Homo sapiens: one gene and its partner. The protein of the gene in region 1 binds, or shares a complex with, the protein of each later gene. Each region holds a gene or a part of one and is shown in the gene's direction. Other genes may lie near its edges. The genes, in order: EXOSC5 and EXOSC2.

What was found.
Region 2: EXOSC5 (region 1) and EXOSC2 share a complex: the UniProt entries of both Homo sapiens proteins name them as parts of the RNA exosome core complex.

Annotation. Positions count from the first base shown.
Region 1 is NC_000019.10:41,390,468-41,394,377, reverse strand, and holds part of EXOSC5 (exosome complex component RRP46), read left to right. Parts: intron 1-1,397; coding exon 1,398-1,511; intron 1,512-2,415; coding exon 2,416-2,537; intron 2,538-3,910. UniProt on the Homo sapiens protein: Non-catalytic component of the RNA exosome complex which has 3'->5' exoribonuclease activity and participates in a multitude of cellular RNA processing and degradation events.
Region 2 is NC_000009.12:130,696,549-130,700,458, forward strand, and holds part of EXOSC2 (exosome complex component RRP4), read left to right. Parts: intron 1-1,033; coding exon 1,034-1,079; intron 1,080-1,613; coding exon 1,614-1,703; intron 1,704-2,780; coding exon 2,781-2,846; intron 2,847-3,910. UniProt on the Homo sapiens protein: Non-catalytic component of the RNA exosome complex which has 3'->5' exoribonuclease activity and participates in a multitude of cellular RNA processing and degradation events.

The DNA of each region.
Region 1 (3,910 bases):
AGACTAAGCCTTGCTGTTATTGTCCAGGCTGGAGTGCAATGGTGTGATCTCGGCTCACTGCAACCTCCGCCTCCCCGGTTCCAGCAATTCTCCTGCGTCGGCCTCCCAAGTAGCTGAGATTACAGGCACCCACCACTATGCCCAGCTAATTTTTGTATCTTTAGTAGAGATAGGGTTTCACCATGTTGACTAGGATGGTCTCAAACTCCTGACCTCAGGTGATCCACCCACCTCAGCCTCCCAAAGTGCTGGGATTACAGCAGACAGTACTAGAAGCCAGGCTGTTTATTTCTTAGGTTTTACCTCCTGTACCCCGTTCATAGCTTCTGGGGAAATAAGGAATCAGGATTCATTCCAGATATTATCCCTTTCTCAGGTGTCCAGACTGATGCAAAATTTGGGGGCCAGTGCCTAAGGGAAGAGCTGGGCTGGGGAAGCTTTGGAAAGAGAAGTTGAGAGCAGCTGCAGTAAGAGGGAGGATGGTTAGCTTTCAGGAAGAACTTCCTGTTAAAAGTTACTAATACCAGCCGGGCACAGTGGCTCACGCCTGTAATCCCAGCGCTTTGGGAGGCGGGCAGATCATGAGGTCAGGAAGTTCGAGACCAGCCTGACCAACATGGTGAAACCCAGTCTCTACTAAAAATAAAAAAATTAGCCAGGTGTGGTGGCGCGCGCCTGTAATCCCAGCTACTCAGTAGGCTGAGGCAGGAGAACTGCTTGAACCCGGGAGGCAGAGGTTGCGGTGAGCCGAGATTACGCCACTGCACTCCAGCCTGGGCGACAGAGCAAGACTCCATCTCATTAAAAAAAAAAAAATTACTAATATCAGGGCCAGGCGTGGTAGCTCACGCCTGTAATCCTAGCACCTTGGGATTACAGTTGCCCAGGAGTTCGAAACCCGCCTGAGCAACATGGCAAAATCCCCTCTCTACTAAAAATATAAAAATTAGTCAGGCATGGTGGCACATGCCTGTAGTTCCAGCTACTTGGGAGGCTGAGGCGGGAGGATCACTTGAGCCCAGAAGGTCAAGGCTGCAATGAGCCGTGATGGCACCACTGCACTCCAGCCTGGGCAATGAGAGTGAGACCCTGCCTGAATGCCTGAATGGACGAATGTTACTAATACAGCTAAAGTCTGTTGCACATTCAGCGTGAGCCCCGCAGTGTTCTAAGTGTTTTCTGTGAATTGTGTCCTTTGATCCTCACAAGACGCTAGCGGGGAGGGACTGCTATTTTCCCCATTTTACAAATGAGAGAAATGAAGTGAGTGCTCAAAGAATCAGTACCAACAAATGGCGGGGGTGACGTGGGGAGCCCTGGCCGTCAGGCTCAGTGCCACAAATGGGGCCCCAGGAGCAGGGAAGCTGTGAGTGAGGCCCTCCCTGCTGTCTCCTCAGGTGACACCTCTGTCCTGGCGGGTGTGTACGGGCCGGCCGAGGTGAAGGTCAGCAAAGAGATTTTCAACAAGGCCACACTCGAAGTGATCCTGAGGCCGAAGATTGGGCTGCCTGGTAATTGGGCCCTGCTGAACCTCTGAGTGGTGCCCAGTTTGTCAAAATCACCCCCCCAGCTCCTCCCTACCAGCTGCCCCGAGTCTCCACTCCCCGCTTGGGTCTCCACTCAGCTGTTTCTGTCTTTAACTCTCCGCCTCTAATTAATAACTCATCTTCTGTTGCTTCTCTCTCTGCCTCTAATTTCTCCCTCCCTCTTTTCTCCCTCTCTCTGCCTCCACTCTCATTCATTCCATTAACCTGTTTTTCTTTTATTTATTTTTATTTATTTATTTTTTTTTTGGAGACAGTGTCTCGCTCTGTCACCCCGGCTGGAGTGCAGTGGCACGATCTCAGCTCACTGCAACCTCTGCCTCCCAGATTCAAGCAATTCCCCTGGCTCAGCCTCCCGAGTCGCTGGGATTACAGGCACGTGCCACCATGCCCACTAATTTTTTGTATTTTTTTAGTAGAGATGGGGTTTCACCATGTTGGCCAGGATGGTCTTGATCTCCTGACCTCAAGTGATCCGCCCGCCTCAGCCCCCCAAAGTGTTGGGATTACAGGCGCGAGCCACTGTGCCTGGACCATTAACCTGTTTTTCCACCCTTTTACCCTCATATCCCTCAGTCCCCACTGACTGGACCTGCTAGGGTGGGAGTGGGCGTGGGTAGCAGCACAGACATGGAACTCCCAGGTCTTCTTCCCTTGGATGGTTCCCTTGGTGGATGCTGGAGGTAGCAGGGGTCAGTGGATGGCAGTCAGGCCTTGCCTTCTTCCCACTGGAATCTTCCATCATCCCTGCAGGTAACTGCACCATCCCAGGCTGAGACCGTGAGCCCTTTCTGGGAATTTGGGTGAGGCGTATGGAGGAAGGTGAGTCAAATGAAGGGGAAGACCCTGAACCTCTCTTCAATTTCCCCAGGTGTTGCAGAGAAGAGCCGGGAGCGGCTGATCAGGAACACGTGCGAGGCGGTGGTGCTGGGCACGTTGCACCCCCGCACCTCCATCACCGTGGTGCTGCAGGTTGTCAGCGATGCCGGCTCTGTATCCTTTCTGCCAGGCCTCCTCCTCCAGGAAGTCTCCTGATTGCTTCCCTCCTGGCGGATACATATACCCTCACTGCTAGCCAGAAAGCCTTCAAACACTTGACAGGTACCAGCTCACTGAAGAAGGAGAGCAAACAGCCTGGGTGCTTACTTATGTGCCAGGCACTGTTCTGTGTGCCTTATGCACATTAACTCATGTAATATAGCACATGCCCTTATGATCCCCGTGGAAGTGGCAGAGCCAAGACTTAGACCCAGACCGTCTAGTTCTAGAGCCCACGGACCCTGGCAGATGAGTGTTCTTATGTTCGCATGTTTCAGGTGACAAAACTGAGGCCCAGAGAGGGGAAGGGGCTTGCCCAAGGTCACACAGCTGGAAGGCAGCACAGGCAGGACTCAAGCCCAGGCCAGTCTGACTCCAGAGCCTGTGCCAATCACTTCTTTTGTTTTTTGGGTTTTTTTGTTTGTTTTTGAGACAGGCTCTCACTCTGTCACCCAGGCTGGATGCAGTGGTGCAATGTCAGCTTACTGCAACCTCTACCTCCCGGGCTCAAGCGATTCCCATGCTTTAGCCTCCTGAATTACAGGTGGAATTACAGGTGCCTGCCACCACGCCAGGCTAATTTTTGTATTTTTAGTAGAGACGGGGTTTTGCTGTGTTGGCCAGGCTGGTCTCGAACTCCTGACCTCGAGTGATCAGTCCACCTTGGCCTCCCAAAGTGCTGGGGTTACAGGCATGAGCTACTGTGCCCGGCTGGCAATCACTTCTACTCGGCACCTCAGTGGATTTCAGGCCCTCAGTGCTGGGGGCGCCCTGAGCAGACAGCAGCTGAGTCAGGAGCGTGGCCTTGTAAGATCTCCATGTCTGAGGTGCGAGAGGTTGAGGTTGAGGACTAGAATTAGACACTGTAGAAGGCTTTACTGGAACGTGGCCCTGAACTGGACAGACATTTTATGGATGGGCAGAGAGAGAAGGTATTGTGACCCCATTTTACAGAAGTGGAAAGTGAAGCCCAGAGGAAGGCGTGGAGGATCAGCAGCAGAGCTGGAACCGGTTGACTAAAGCTGTGGTCTTTGTCTGGCTGCTAGGCCTGGAGAAGAAACACATTAGGAAACTGAGGCAGAGCCAGCTGACTCCCAACCTGTGCTCTCTTTCCACTGTGAGCTTCCTGCAGGCAGCAGCGAGGTGGCTCTTCCTCCATTGCCCTGCCAGCTCTGTCACCGGGGAGTGGCTGCTACCCAAGTTTCGGGCCTGGCTTTGCCAGTGCCTCCCCCTCGTGTCTTTGGAAGGTTTCTTCCCCTCTCTGACCCTATTTGCCAACAAATGTGTGGTACGTACTTCAGTACATACCTATTGAATATTATTATATT
Region 2 (3,910 bases), on another chromosome or scaffold:
TGGGAGCAGTGGAAGGTGGAGGAGTGATTGGAATCTACACAGATTTTATTTTCCGAGTGTTTTTTTAAAATCATGAAAAGCTGTTGGGTTTTGTATTCTTTGGGCTTTACTGTGCATAGGACCCCGTCAACTGTGAATAGAAATAAGTTTACTTCTTCCTTTCCAATTTGGATGCCTTTTATTTCCTGCATATGTTTTAAGGGTAGAGCCAACAGGTTTTGCTACTGGACTTGTCCTGGAGCGTGAGAGAGAGAGAGGAATCAAGGAACTCTCCGAGGTTTTTGGCCTGAGCAACTGAGGGGATGGAGTCACCGTTGACTGAGATGGGGACAACTCATCCCCTATCTCGGTTTGCTATGGAGGACTGGAGGGGGCTGCGGGAAAGCTTAGTTTTGTGCTTGATACATTTGAAAATGCCTGTTAGTCATCTAGATGGCAGAGTTGGGTAGCTAGCAGTTGAGTAGGATTTGGAATTCAGGAGAGTGGCACAGTCACAGCACAGAGTGGTGTTTTAAAGGTATTAGATTGAGTGGCCGAAAAGTGAAGAGGTCTAAGGACTTAGCCTCAGCACTGAGTACGTCTCATTAGAATCGCGGGTAAGGAACTAGCAAAGGGGCTTGAGAGGAGCAGGCAGTGAGTAAGTGGAGGAGACGTGAGCAGACTTGTGTGGTTGGAGTCCTGGCTCAGATTTCCTTTCTCTTCCTTTGGCTGGTGCAGAACTCATCCATGTGCCACAGGAAAATAGTCCGTGTTTTTCATTGTCGTGTAATCGAACAAAATAGGGTTTTTGGGCTAAATGAACTACTTGGAATGGTGATATGTCTAAGGATAGTTAATGGAGACTTTATACGTGGAGGAATGTTTGAAGTTAGCAGTTTCTGAAAGTAAGTCCAGACAATATAGTTACATGAATTTGCTGAATGTGGCGCCTGTTCCAGGCTTTCACCCTGTTGAACCGACATCTCAAATGGTGTGTGGTCTTGTCAGAAAGTCTGCTCACAGATGGATGAACCCCTTGTGTTTTGTCTTTCAGATACATTGGTGAAGTAGGAGACATCGTAGTGGGACGAATCACAGAGGTAACGTCGATATCAGATTGGTGTTTACAAAGTCGAGGCAGGCTGGCGATTTCATTCATGGGACAGTCATTCCACTTGTAGTTACATGAAAAAGGCATTCATTGCATTTGGCCGTTGTGTGGCTTCTGATGTAAATATGTGGCTTGTTCGATTTCAGATTACTGGTTCATGTTTTTTTTTTTTTGAGATGGAGTCTCGCTCTGTCGCCCAGGCTGGAGTGCAGTGGCATGATCTTGGCTCACTGCAACCTCCACCTCCCAGGTTCAAGCGATTCTCCTGCCTCAGCCTCCCAAGTAGCTGGGATTACAGGCACCCGCCACCACGCCCAGCTAATTTTTGTATTTTTAGTAGAGATGGGGTTTCATTATATTGGTCAGGCTGGTCTCAAACTCCTGACCTCAAGTGATCCACCAGCTTCGGCCTCCCAAAGTGCTGGGATTACAGGCGTGAGCCACCACATCTGGCCTTACTGGTTATTTATGATATGACACATGAACATGGAGCATGTGTCCAGGTGTGGAACTTGGCTTATAGGTTCAACAGAAGAGGTGGAAGGTGGAGACCAACTCCAGGCTGGATTCGGTCTTGCTGCTCTCGTCCATGAACCTTCCTGGAGGAGAGCTGGTAAGGGCTACAGCTGGGGCCATGGACTAGGGCCCAGTGGGCTGGGGGGAGCCGTGGGACCCTTTGTTCCACCAGAGGACTTTGATTTACACTGAGGTTGCCCCTTTGACTCCTGTTTGTCTGCTGTGAAGTTTGCTGCCTAGATGTGTATGTAGACTTTTCACCCTGTCCAGGTCTCCCGAAAGAGGGAGCAGTTGGCATATGGTAGGATCAGAAACATCCATGGGGTGGGATCCCAACAGAGAGTTGGGGAGAGAAGCCCTTAGATGCTGGTTGTTAACAGTTTTCCTTTTTGGATATAACAGCCTTGCATAGTGAAGATGTTCCTTGAAAAGTTGTCTTTACATTAGGTTTTTGTGAATTGAAAGGCATTTCATTCAACCATGTGTGGAATGTGGTTGCTGGCATTCCAGACAACCACAGTAACTAAGCCACAGCCTTTTGTAAAATGCCATGGTTCACCTTGATCTTCAGTCCAGCGTGTATTTACAGAGAGGCTTACTGTGCCAAGCTCTGTGCCGAGTGCCAAGCACGATTGAGTTCCCCAGCAGGGGATATAAGATAACTGACCTAGTCCCTGGCAGTAGAAGAATAAATAAGCTGTGGTTATACAAAAGGAAATTTCAGTGAGAGAAGCTTGTAGGAAAGACAGGCATTGGAGTTGATCCTGGAAGGATGGAGAGACTTTGAATGACTAGTTCAGGGAATCTGAGATAAAGGGAAATGTATGAGCAGAGATATATCCAAGCAGGAGTTAGTCTGGTCCTGCTGGACCACAGAGGGCTGTCATGGAAGATGACTATGGAAATGTTGGCTAGGTGAGATTGGGAGGGGTCTGAATGTTCCTCAGAGAAGGGAGGGAAAGAGGAAGAGGAGCTGTGGAAAAGTCTTTTGAGATGGAAAGTCGTGATTATCACTGATTCCCCTCAAGTGGCTTGGGTTACCTACTCTTGCTATAGTTCTCAGTGCTTGAATATTGTGGTTGGCCTCAAACATCTCAAAAGGAAGTGAAAGAGAAGTGATGGAGACCTTTCTGAGGATCTGGCTTAAGTAATGTCATTTCTTTGTGTATTTCAGAGGAGAAGATCTGCAGAAGATGAGCTTGCAATGAGAGGTTTCTTACAGGAAGGGGACCTTATCAGTGTATCCTGCGCTTTGCACTCCAGCCTCTTGATGCTTTTCTGTGGGACTGGGAAATGGGCCTTCCATTGTATGTCTCTGACGGAAGAACCATGTCATCCTTGCAGGGATCCGAGTCTTAGACCAAGTGTCGGGCTCTGCTGCATCCTTTCTCAGTCTCCTTAATTCAGGCTGACTCCCCAGCTCTTGTTGGGACCTGCTGCTAAGTCATTTCTTTGGGTCTTGTAACTTACGGTGGCCTGTGCTTTAGACTAGGCTTTTGTTAATGGTGTTAACTTTTAGCGCAGGGAGTGGAGAAGGTGTTGTTCACGTCAAGATATTAATGACAGGCCGAGTGTGGTGACTCATGCCTGTAATCCCAGCGCTTTGGAAGGCCAAGGAGGGAGGACTGCTTGAGCCTAAGAGTTCAAGACCAGCCTGGGCAACATAGCAAGACCCCCCTCTCTACAAAAAAATTAAAAAAGAATTAGCCGGGCGTGGTGGCACATGCCTGTAGTCCTAGCTACTCAGGAGGCTGGGGCCAGAGGGTTGCTTGAGCCCAGGAGCTCAAGGCTACAGTAAGCTATGATCACACCACTGCATTCCAGCTTGGGTGACAGAACAAGACTCTGTCTCTATTTTATGTTATTTTTTAAATTTTTCTTTTTTTTTAATGACGGAGTCTTGCTCTGTTGCCCAGACTGGAGTGCAGTGGCGCGATCTCGGCTCACTGCAACGTCCGCCTCTTGGATTCAAGCAATTCTGCCTTAGCCTCCCAAATAGCTAGGATTACCGGCGTGCGTCATGCCTGGCTAATTTTTGTATTTTTAGTAGAGACAGGTTTCACCATATTGGCCAGGCTGGTCTCAAACTCCTGACCTCAGGTGATCTGCCCACCTCGGCCTCCCAAAGTGCTGGGATTACGGGCATGAGCCACCATGCCTGGCCTCTGTCTTTATTTTATTTATTTATTTATTTATTTATTTATTTATTTATTTATTTTTTTGAGACGGAGTTTCACTCTTGTTGCCCAGGCTGGAGTGCAATGGTGGGATCTCGGCTCACTGCAACCTCTGCCTCCCGGGTTC